Homo sapiens: one gene and its partners. The protein of the gene in region 3 purifies or fractionates together with the protein of the main gene of each other region. This does not show direct contact. Each region holds a gene or a part of one and is shown on either strand. Other genes may lie near its edges.

Region 1 (3,747 bases), on a different chromosome or scaffold from region 3:
ACATTGTCCATCATTTGGTAAAACAATGCCACCAAGTTTCCCATCTCCAGCAAAGTGAAACCCGGCATCTGTGGAAAACACCAGCAGCCGTGTAACATTCCTCCAGCCAATCAGTGACTTGAAAAGAAAAGGATTTCAATTTTAAAACACTATTCACAGTAATTCAACAAAAATCCTTTAATTTTCATATAGGCCACCATTGTATTTTTAACCTAATTCTGTATTTTCTGTGTCTTCTCTTTATACAATGGTAATTATCTTGCTGAGAAACACACAAAGCCCACTGAATGAAGCTCTTCCATCCCATGTACAACGATATCTTGCCTGACCATCCGTATCTCTCAATCTCTCAGTTCTTTTTAAAAACTGTTTTTTTGTTTTGTTTGGTTTGGTTTAGTTCTGCTTATCATCATATCTCCAGCAGCTAGCAAGCCAGCACACTGCTTGGCAAGCAGTAAGCCCTTGATGAGCATTTGCTGAATAAATGAAAGTGTCTGAGCCTATCCTTACTTTACCCCACTGCTGCTGTCTTGTCCCCATCCACCCATCTCTGCTCTATGTTCTATGCCATGCACCTTCTTTATCAGCCCACCATATGAGGCTTCCTTTTTTTATAACAGAAATAAGTATCTTGTTTAAGGATAATTTCACCCATTCTAACTCCTCAATCAGTACTGTTTATGCACTCATTTACTTTATCCTTGCCCTTTCCAATAAAGAATCTAAAGTAACTGTAAAATCTTCTTGTCACTATGGTAATTTATAATTATAAAATCATAGGACTATAGGAATTTACCTGCTTTCGTTAATTTATTTAATACGTCTGTTTAGATCTTCATAAGACAGTAAAATACTTTAAGGTGGGAATCACATTTATTAATACTGGCAATCTTTCAAAAGTGGAATGTCTGATTCTTTTGCATCTAGAGGAGTGGATCAGCATGACCAACACAGAAAAACAGCCACAATCAAGGGTGTTATGGCTTGTTTAATACCACAGGTTAAGGCCTAGTTAGAGGCAGCCCAGAGAATGCCCTCCCCACAACGAGCTGCTAACAGGCTCACACATCAATGGCTAGTAAGAAAAGAGGTGTAAGGCTAGGTACTACCTGGAATGCTACTTGCTTCGGCTATAACAGCAGGGACTAACCTTAAATTGCAAACACTCTAGTGAAAAGTCGAAAGTAATAACAATATAGGAATTAGTATTTGCTGAATGCTCATTGGTACTTTATAGAGATTGATGCATTTTAACTTCACAAGAGCCCTATGAGGTAGATACTATCATGATCCCTTCTTAAAGAGAAGAAAACAGCCCTGGAGAGGCTGAGTAAATTGCCCAGCATCAGTGGTGATAGAAAAATTCTTAATTACTATCCATATTCCTTCACTTATTATTTTGGGCATCAATTAGCACCTTAGCAAAAATTGACTGAAAAATAACCACTAAGAGGCCTCTAAAATCAAAGAAGGTCATCTAGAGAATGGGGGCACTGGAGGGAACAAAAATGAGACAAGAGTAGGTACGCAGGACAAACTTGACATGACAATGTCTTCTAGTTTCAGCCTCAGCCACATCATTAAAGTGTCATCTCAAAATACATAGCTGCTACATGGATCATAAAATACAAATTATTGAACCAATAGGGATGGGCTTGCTACTGAAAATCTTACAATTAAAATTACAAATATTGTATCACTTCTCAAAATACATCTATTCATATAGGTTAAAAACTAGAGCTTAAAAAGTTCTCTCTTTTTGAATTACTAAGACACAGGAGAAAGATGTGTCTTTCAAAGACAGTGAGAAGAAAACTGACCAAAGGAAAATGATACAAGACACTCTCCCTTTGAGCAATTTCAAGGTTCCTGGTGATGCCTCAGATAATAACATCAATTCTATCTCTAGTACAAAGCCAGAAAGTTAGGACACATGGGCTTTTCTAAAATCCAGACCACCAGCTACAGTACAGAGAGGTTGCCCCGCTGTTTCAAATGGTTAGCATTCTGTCTTTTAAAAGCCCGCATGAATAAACTAACTGTGTGGTTTGCATAAAGATTAAATATGCTTTTATAAAGGCACTTTATGTATACAGGCAATTTAAGGGTTTACTTAAAATTACTTCTCTAAGATAATCAAATCTATGAAAATTAAGGTCAATTTTTCTATTATCATAGTAAAATCACACTTAAAATTCACACACATAATAGAAACAATATCCCCTGATAGGAAATGAATGCGCTTACTCCACAAACTGCAACTTGCATGATGGCATCGAAACCACCTTCTGGAGAATCCAAATTTCCAGATATGCGCTGTTTTCCAACAAGTTCATTAAATACTTCTCCTTTATTAGTAAGACTGAGCACATTTTTGTAGCTAAATGGGCTGGTGCAGTTCTGTTCACTTGTGCAAGGGTTCCTGAGCTTAGCTGGTGTTGTGCTAATGTAAGGCATCACAGTCTTTTCCACAAATGAGCCAAATCCTGCCAAGAAAAAAATGGTACATAAATGAATGAATGGATGGATAGATGGAAAGACAGAGATTTGCATTGTTTAAAAAATTCATCTATGTTACCAAATGTAGGTTACTATGGACTGAATGTCTGTGTTACCCCAAAATTCCTACATTGAAAACCTAATTCCCAACATGATGGTATTAGGAAGTGGTTCCTTTGGAAGGTGATTAGATCATGAGGGCAGAGCCCTCATGAATGGGATTAGTAACTGATACAGTTTGGGTATCTGTCCCCGCCCAAGTCTCATGTTAAAATGTGATCCCCAATGTTGAAGGTACGGCCTGGTGGAAGGTATTTCGATCATGGGGGCAGATCAATCCCTCATGGCTTGGTGCTATTCTGACCACAGTGAGTGAGTTCTCATGAGATCTGTTATTTAAAATTGTGTGGCATCTCTCCCCAACTCTTGCTCCTGCTCCCACCATGTGAGAAGCCTGCTCCCCACTTTGCCTTCTGCCACGATTGGAAGCTTCCTGAGGCCTCCCCAGAGGCCTTGCTGATGCTAGCGCCATGCTTCCTGTAGAGCTTGCAGGACCGTAAACCAATTAAACCTCTTTTCTTCATAAATTACCCAGTGTCAGATATGTCTTTATAGCAACGTAAGAATAGACTCCTACAGTGACCTCATCAAAGAAGCCCCAGAGAGCTGCTGTCTCCCTGCTGCTATGTGAGTACATCGCAAGAAGGTATCATCTATGAACCCAGAAGAGGGACCTCACCAGATGCTCAATCTGCCTGGATCTTGGACTTCTCACCTCCAGAGCTGTGAGAAATAAATTTCTGTTGTTCATAAGCCACCCAGTTTATAGTATTTTCTTAAAGCAGCACAAATGGACTAAGACCTAAGACAATCTTTTTATTTTGCCTCCCTACTTTAAAAATAACTCACATTCATTTTCTTGGCACACCAGCTCTCAATAATGACATGCTGAACAAATGAATAAACAAATATTCTAGAATTCTGGCCATTTTAAAAAACACTAATTTGATAGGAGCTCCCTAATGCCATGGTCCTTGAATTATGCTTACAGAATAAAAGAACATTTTAAGCAAGTGCTATTTTTAAATGTTTCCACTAAAATAGGGCTAATTTTTGAAAGGCAGCTCTTAGGCCTCATAACTGTCAAATCTTTCTAATATTCTGTTGCTAAACCTCTAGAGCAACAGGAGTGGAGAGAAGCAGGCAAAAAAGAGGTTAAGCTGGGGATGCATGAAATGGGAAAAATAA
Region 2 (3,747 bases), on a different chromosome or scaffold from region 3:
ACAAATAGGGTGTCCAGGGCTGGGGGAGAGAGGATGACTGTTCAGAGAGGATGCCATCATCCTCCACCCATACACTTGCCTCTGCGCTTTCCCCATCAAGTTCTCTGAACCCACCTTCTCCATTCACAGACACCCCCATCCCTGCCCACAGCCTGCCCCCTCAGCATGCAAGTCAGCATCAACCACAGAGGACCCCGTGCAGGTGGGCACTGCAGGGCTGGAAGTTGGATTTTTTGAGACTTCATGTGACATAATGTGGAGGAGAGAGATAGTAGCAGGAGGGTCAGAAGATGGGAAGGGAAGGCCAGTGGCAGAGGCCAGGAGGAAGGCAGAGTGAGGAGGGTGGAGGGGGTGTCACTCACCATGCATGTAGGGGTAGACTGTAACAGGCCCTGAGCGGGCACTGCCCGCCTGGTACCAGCTGTAGTCGGCATGCTGCACCCAGGCGCTGGGGGCACAGTGGTACACGCCTTCATCCTCGGGCCCCAAGCTGTGTAGTCTCAGCCGATGGCTTCGGGGCCCCACCAGCTCTACGCTGACAGGGCCTCCTCCAGGCCGGACTCCCAGCTCTGCCACACCATCCTGGCCTACGCCACCCACCAGCTGGGCAGGGACAGAGCTGAGCTCTCCGTCCTCTGGTCGCTCCACCCACCAGCTGGCGGCCAGCCGCAGTCCTGGGGGGCCACCCCGCACAGAGATGTTGCACAGCAGGGAGGCAGTCTCCCCGCGGTACACTGTGCCTCCTGCTAGCCATGCCACAGCCTCCAGCACCACACCTGCAGAACAAAGGACATGGGGTCAGAGGGTGCAGGGCCAGGGAGCATGGGGTTAGGGCTGCCGCCAAGCACCGCCCCAGGAAACTCAGGGTATTCCCACAATCTTGGTAGAAGAGGAGCGTGAGGCTGTGGCCTGCAAACAGCTGACGGAGAGGGAGGGGTCATGGAAACAGAAGGAAAAGGGGTTGACAATCCTCGAACCCCGTCCAGGGCCCAGCCCCCTCTCACCTTCCTCCCGCACATGTACAGGGAGAGGCCGGGAACGGGCACTGGCTGCTTCACGAAGCCGGGTCCCAGACCCTCGAACATAGGCTTTGGCGAGGCAGCGGTAGGTGCCCGCATCACCAGGCCTGGCAGCCTCTAGCCGTAGCCGGTATGTTCTGGATGCCACCTTCTCCATGGCAATGTGTCGGCCCTCATAGCCAGGGCCCAGGCTGCCCACACCCTCTGTGTCCAGCTGGGCTACCAGGCGGCCGGGCCCAGGTGCCCCCGCAGGTGCCATCTCCCAACCTACAGAGTATGCAGCATGACGGCCTGCTGGGGGAAGTGCCCCTGACACATTGCACAGCAGTTCCAAGGGCTCCCCTGGGCCGATCCGACGTTCACCAGGCCCCACTGTCACTGCCAGCTGGCTGGCTGAAACACAGGTAGGGGAAGAGGTGTCATGGAGGCAGGAGGGGACACAGAGGCACCCGATTCCCCAACTTCCTGTTTCCTACTTGACAGCAGCAACTTCAAAACCTCCTGTCTCCCCCTCACTAGGTATGACCATCTTTCTATTTAGGGGCTTGAATCTCACCCCTCAGCATGGGCCTCCTATCTCTATACCCAATTTCTGAGCAGAGAAAACCCATCAAGGGCCGGGGGAGAGAAATGCTAGCAAGGCTGCTCACTCTGTGGAAGATGAGTTCCTTGGAGTCAGATGATGGCTATCTGGTACCCCCTGTGGCCACAGTGCCCACCAGGATACTGTCCCTCCCAGCTCCCACAGTGGGATGTATAAGTGGCACTTACACAGCGTCTGCACATCCACGTGGGCCAGGACGGCCCTTTTCTCTGCAATCTGGGCCCAGCTGCCATCAGGATCCTGAATCCACTCAGCGGCAGTGCAGTGGTAGGTGCCTGCGTCCCCTGCCTGGGCACCCCCTACTACCATGCGGTACCGATCGGTCCCTTCCTTGCCCAGACGAAGCTCCCCTGCAGCCAATCGCTCAGCATAGGGAGCTCCAGCCTCCACGGCCAAGTCTGACCGGATTCCCACCACTTCCTGCAGAGTTGACCGCCCAACTGGTGCCTCGGGCACAGATCGCCCAAAGGACACTGCCAGGTGTGTGTGCTTCTGTGTGCTTGTCCTCGCCAGGCAGCCCAGTGCCAGCTCCTGCCCCTCATGCACCGTCATGCGTGGGGGTGAGGTTGGGGCCTGGCGGCCTCGGGGCCCTGGGGGGGCAGCAGACACCTGGAGGACATCTGGAAGAACTGGAGAGAACAGCTGGAGTGAGGGAGGGCTGGGAGCTGGCAGCCCTTGTTACTGTTTCCTGTGTATAGCCTATCTCCCTAAATAAACTGTGAGCTCCCAGAGGGCAAAGATCGCATGTTGTATTATTTCTTCTGTAACTCAGTGGTGCCAAGGGCAGTACTGGGCACAGCACAGGCGCTCAATAAATACTTGTAGAATTTCATAGAACCAGCCCATCGCCTACTCACCCTTATGTTTGAGACTGACCTCTGTTTGAAATACTGAGAAAAGCGGCTCTTTCTTCTCAGAAGACAAAGAAACTTAAGAGAGTGAGAATGTCACATGGTCTAACTCCTTCCCTAACTCTACTCTCTTTCCCAGATCTGGGTCCTGTACTGTCCAGGAGTAGAGGCTATTCAACCCAACAGTCTTCTTCGTTCTTGGGAATGGAAAGTGGACTGGACAACTTAAGGACATTTCTTCTCCCAGGAGGGGTCTTAATATGATAAGATGAGCACTGGCCTGGGTGAGGAACTCTGGGTTTGAGTCCCACATCAGCCACTGAGTTATTGGGTGACTTTGTGCAAATCACTTAACCTCTTTGGGCCTCAAGTTCCTTGGCTACAAAACCTAAGGGGCAACTAGATAGGTCACTTGTGGCCTTGACTTTCTGCCTTGAGAGGGTGTGTGGCTCCACCCCGTCCCAGGGCCCAGTACCTCTCAGCTCCACCTTGCCGCTGTAGCTGCCCAGGTAGCGGGTATCAGTGGAGGGGGTGTGGCACTCATAAATGCCGGCATCCTGGGCCTGCAGGCGGGCAATCTTGAGCACCACGGCATCACCTTGTAGGCGCTGCACCTGCACCTCACCCGCCACCACTCGGGACTTGAAGACAGCATAGGAGAACTGGGTATCCTTGGTACTGACAATGCCCAGTGCAGTATCTGGGGCCTCGGGCCTATACAGGAACCACTCGAAGTTCTGCTGGGCAGGGCCCTCATAGCCGGTCACATTGCAGGAGATGGAGACAGCTGTGCCAGCCACGCGGTACAAGGGCCCCTCGGGGACCAGCACCTCCCGGGCCCAGCATCCCATTCCTGTAGGGAAAGGCAGAAGGAGTTGGAGATGCCTGGTTCCTCATTCCATGCCCTCTGCCGCCACAAGCACCATTCTTGATCTCTGCCTACAAAAGGAAAGGAGACCTGGGAAAGCTTGTCCACAGCTTGGACCCTGTTCTGAGAATAGGAAAGGGATGCTGTGATATAAGACACCTGGATCTCAAGGAGGTGGCATGGGCCCAGGATTGCCTTGGCATCCAGATGCATCCCATTTCTGGCGGACTAGAAGCAGAGCACCTGAAGGCAGAAAGGAGTACATCTGATTCCTGACCTAACCAGGCCTTGGTTCCAACTGAACCTTGATCTGTCCCTGCCACTCACCCACCTCCATGTCTGCCATTCCTTCCTCAGCACCTGGCAAGGGGAGCCTTCTGGCTAGGGGACTCTGAGACTACATGT
Region 3 (3,747 bases):
AGAGTGCAAAGTCCAGGAGCACAAGGCTCTTTCTCACCTTCCCACAAACTACCCCGTGACTCCAGGCTCCAGCCCAGAGCCCGGACAGCCCCTGCCCCAGCCTTTGCCCAGGATTCTCCCTTGGCGGCAACTTTCCCTGTGGTTCTGCAGCATCATCTCCCAGTCTGGGTCAGAGGCCTCTCCTTAGCCTCTTAGCCCCCAAGCCTCTCCCCGTAACTGCACCTATCACCCTCAAACCATTGTCTGGCTGCCTGTCTCCTCCCACACTGGTCCCTGAGCAGAAACAAGGACTAATCCATGTTTTTCAGCTCCTACCCCTAATGAAATACCCTAATAGATACTGAAAAATGTTTTTGAACCAATGAGACAAGTCTACTGATAATAAACAGGCAAATAACAGCAATGTGCTAACAGTGGCTGTTTCTGGTGAGCAGAATTTTGAGGTCTGTTCCTTTCACTTCTTGGTATTTCGGTTGTTTCTGTAATGACTGTATCTTGCTTTTGTAATCATAAAGGACAGTAAAGGAAACTTCATTTTGAAAATAATACAAAGGGATTCGGGGACTTCAAAAGAAGGTGACTCTCCTCGTCCACTCCAGAGAATCAGGAAAGGAGTGTTTAAAGACCCACAGAATTCCTACAAGTGACGTTGGGGGGGGGCCAGCCAGCCAGGGCGCATGCCGGCCAGCGAGTGGGGTGGGCTCTGGGTCCGGGAGAAGTCAGATCAGTGCTCTGTACAGGGCCTTGAGGGCAAGACGAGGAATTTCGACTTAGGTCCTTGAATCTGGAGAGCTACAGAAAGTTTGTGAGCTCAGGAGAAGCGCTCCGAGCTCGGCATCTGGAGCAGTTCAAGGCAGCAGCGAGCAAGTCCAAAGACGCAGGAGGGAGGGTGGGGTGGAGGAGTAGAGAGAAAACAGAAGCCGTCTACAGACCCTTTTTCCCTCTGGGGCAACTAAACCTCAAGTGCAGGAAGCGCTTGGGGACTGCCCAGCCCTCAGCTGTGTTATTATTCGGTGATAGGTATTTGCTAATTACTTCCAAAAGCCTCCCATCTGTCATCCCACCCAGACTGCGCGCTTCTAATTCCTCCTACCCCACATGCTGTGCCCAATGAAAAGTATGGTCAGCGAGCGAAGGTTTGCAAGGAGACAGACGAGGGCGAAATTAAGCCAGGCGGCTTCCCTTTAAATCCTCGCAAAGCAGAAGGGCCCCTCACTCTGGCAGCAGGCCTTGGCCAAGGGGCCTTTAGCCCTGACGACCCGGGGAAGAGTCTCCCAAAGCAGAACGCCCGGTCCGGCGCCCAGACCAAACGCGGGGGAACCGGAAGGGCGAGGCCTCCACGTAAGTCCGCGGTAAAAGTGGCAGGGAGTGGCTGCCTGCAAAGACCCCAAGACGGCTTGAAGAAGGAGTGGGTGGCGGGTGGGGGTTAGGGCGACTAGGCGGGGAAACAGGGAGAGGGTCGGGCTCCGCGGGGCAGCTGGGGCCGGGGCTCGCCGACCTGGGCGGGGGCGGGGGGCGGGGGGGGTGCGGCCCGGGCGGGGCCGGTGGGGCGGGAGGCGTGGCCGGCGGGGGGAGTGGGGGCGGCTTTTCCCGGCACATGCGCACCGCAGCGGGTCGCGCGCCCTAAGGAGTGGCACTTTTTAAAAGTGCAGCCGGAGACCAGCCTACAGCCGCCTGCATCTGTATCCAGCGCCAGGTCCCGCCAGTCCCAGCTGCGCGCGCCCCCCAGTCCCGCACCCGTTCGGCCCAGGCTAAGTTAGCCCTCACCATGCCGGTCAAAGGAGGCACCAAGTGCATCAAATACCTGCTGTTCGGATTTAACTTCATCTTCTGGGTGAGTGAGCGCGACTGCCGCGCGCTCCTCTCAGGGCCCACCTGTTCGCGGGCCCCGGACACTGGCCGCGGCCGCGAGTGCCGGCAGCTGGCACTGCCCGCACCGGGCAGGCACCGGGCGGGAAGAGAGAGCGCCCTGCGGCTGCCAGCTGGCTCCAAGGCCGGGTCCAGAGCCGGGCGGGACGGCCGCGACGGGCGCATTCGGGTGGGGGCTCATCACCGCCCAGCCGGCGTGGGGAGCCGGGCCCTCTTGAGATGAGGCGTGCGGGAGGGTCCTGAGCACTTTAGCTCGCCTAGGATTTGAGCTGGGGTGTGTGTCTGCTCCCAGCTCAAGTCCCTCCGAGTGCCAGAGAGGAAGGCAGGGAGAAGCGGAGCACCCCTCTTTGGGCCAAGGCCAAGGAGGACTGTGGTGAGCAGTATGGCTTGTGACCGGGTGGGGTCTCCCAGGTAGTAGGGGGCGCCAGGAAGGGAGGGTGCGGGCACGGCGAGAGCTCAGCCAAGAGCGGCTCTCACTTTTACGCAGGAGCGGCAGGGGTGCCTCGGCCGCGGGTCCGGCCCCGGGACCCAGTCCCTGAGAGTCGGGGGCCCCTCCACCCTTGAGGAGGAACCTCGCAGGCCCCCGTTCCCTCAGACTTTGATTCTGAGCCACCGTGAGAGCGCCGAACTCCCTGGTAGCTCCCTGAAAGACTAGCTTGTCTTGATTTCTTTCAAGGACGATAAGTATCTTCACTGGAGAGAACTCAGAGTTCGGGAGAGGAGGGGGCAGATACCTATCTGCGCCTCTAGTGGGATGAGTCCTGTGTGTGCATTTCCGGGAGAGATCAGGTGCCAGCCAGCTGCCCGCCCAGGAGAGCCTTGGCCTTGCCCTCTCCCCTCCCCGCCAGCCCAGGCGGCCCACCCAAGGCCAGGCAGGGCGCAGAGCGGACGTTCATCTGGAGAGGCCAGCGGGGCCAGGAGCTCCAGAGACACCTGCTGCAGGCCACTCAGCCTCTACAAATGGGAAGGCTGAGAGGCGACAGAAGCAAGGAATAGGAAACCCTTGTGTCCTTGTTTCTATAGCCACATTCCCTGCACACACATGACAATACTTGCCGCTCTGCAGGCAGGAAGAGAGTCTCTATGCCACTCTCAAGATAGATGGATGTAGAAACAGGTGCATGCCACCAGAGTCTTGTAACAAAAAAGTGCACTTGGCCAGGCACAGTGGCTCATGCCTGTAATCCCAGCACTTTGGGAGGCTGAGGCAGGAGGATCGCTTTCATCCAGGTTCAAGACCAGCCTGGGTAACATAGTGAGACCCCCATCTCCACAAAAAAATAAAAAATTAGCTGGGCGTGTTGGCATGCACCTGTGATCGCAGCTACTCAGGAGGCTGAGATGAGAGGATGGCATGAGCCTGGGAGGTCAAGGCTGCGGTGAGTCATGATTGCACCACTGCACTTAGCCTGGGTGACCTAGTGAGCCCTGTCTCAAAAAAAGTAGAAAAGAAACAAATGCACTTATTCCCCCTGGAGCTGGTCACTGAGGTCCCCACAAGCCTCCTTAGGGAAATCTTCTAAGATTCACTCCTCCCCAGAGCTGAAGGGGTGGTTGAACAGTTTTTCCAATTTGCAGAGACTGACTTCCCCCAGTGCATCAGTCACCATAACACACACCCCAGTGAGGACGGCATATAGGTGTGCTCCTTCCCAACCCTTGACTTGCTTTAAAAAGACCCTGCTGGCCGTGGGCACCCCTCCTCCTGTGTTGCCACCCACCCCAGCAACCACCCAGCTGCCACGCTTAGCTTCTTTCTTTCACCAATCCCTGGCAGCAGAAAAGTATGCGGGAAGGCAGCTGGCCTCACCCACCCTTGAACTTTGGGAGTTTTCCTCTCCCCTCCCAGGTACAGTCTCTCCCGGCTGGTGTGTTGGT

What was found.
Region 1: the proteins of CD9 (region 3) and ITGB1 purify together in Homo sapiens (co-immunoprecipitation; 5 studies listed by BioGRID and IntAct, with this or other methods). This does not show direct contact.
Region 2: the proteins of CD9 (region 3) and IGSF8 purify together in Homo sapiens (affinity purification with mass spectrometry; 7 studies listed by BioGRID and IntAct, with this or other methods). This does not show direct contact.

Annotation. Positions count from the first base shown.
Region 1 is NC_000010.11:32,923,624-32,927,370, forward strand, and holds part of ITGB1 (integrin beta-1 isoform 1A precursor), read right to left. Parts: intron 2,487-3,747; coding exon 2,248-2,486; intron 118-2,247; coding exon 1-117.
Region 2 is NC_000001.11:160,091,920-160,095,666, forward strand, and holds part of IGSF8 (immunoglobulin superfamily member 8 precursor), read right to left. Parts: exon of another isoform or gene 3,502-3,747; intron 3,328-3,501; coding exon 2,950-3,327; intron 2,253-2,949; coding exon 1,791-2,252; intron 1,413-1,790; coding exon 1,005-1,412; intron 777-1,004; coding exon 363-776; intron 20-362; coding exon 1-19. UniProt on the Homo sapiens protein: Member of the immunoglobulin superfamily (IgSF) that links tetraspanin-enriched microdomains to the actin cytoskeleton and plays several important roles in innate and adaptive immunity.
Region 3 is NC_000012.12:6,198,732-6,202,478, forward strand, and holds the start of CD9 (CD9 antigen), read left to right. Parts: upstream 1-1,668; 5' UTR 1,669-1,768; coding exon 1,769-1,834; intron 1,835-2,110; exon of another isoform or gene 2,111-2,161; coding exon of another isoform or gene 2,162-2,242; intron 2,243-3,747. UniProt on the Homo sapiens protein: Integral membrane protein associated with integrins, which regulates different processes, such as sperm-egg fusion, platelet activation and aggregation, and cell adhesion.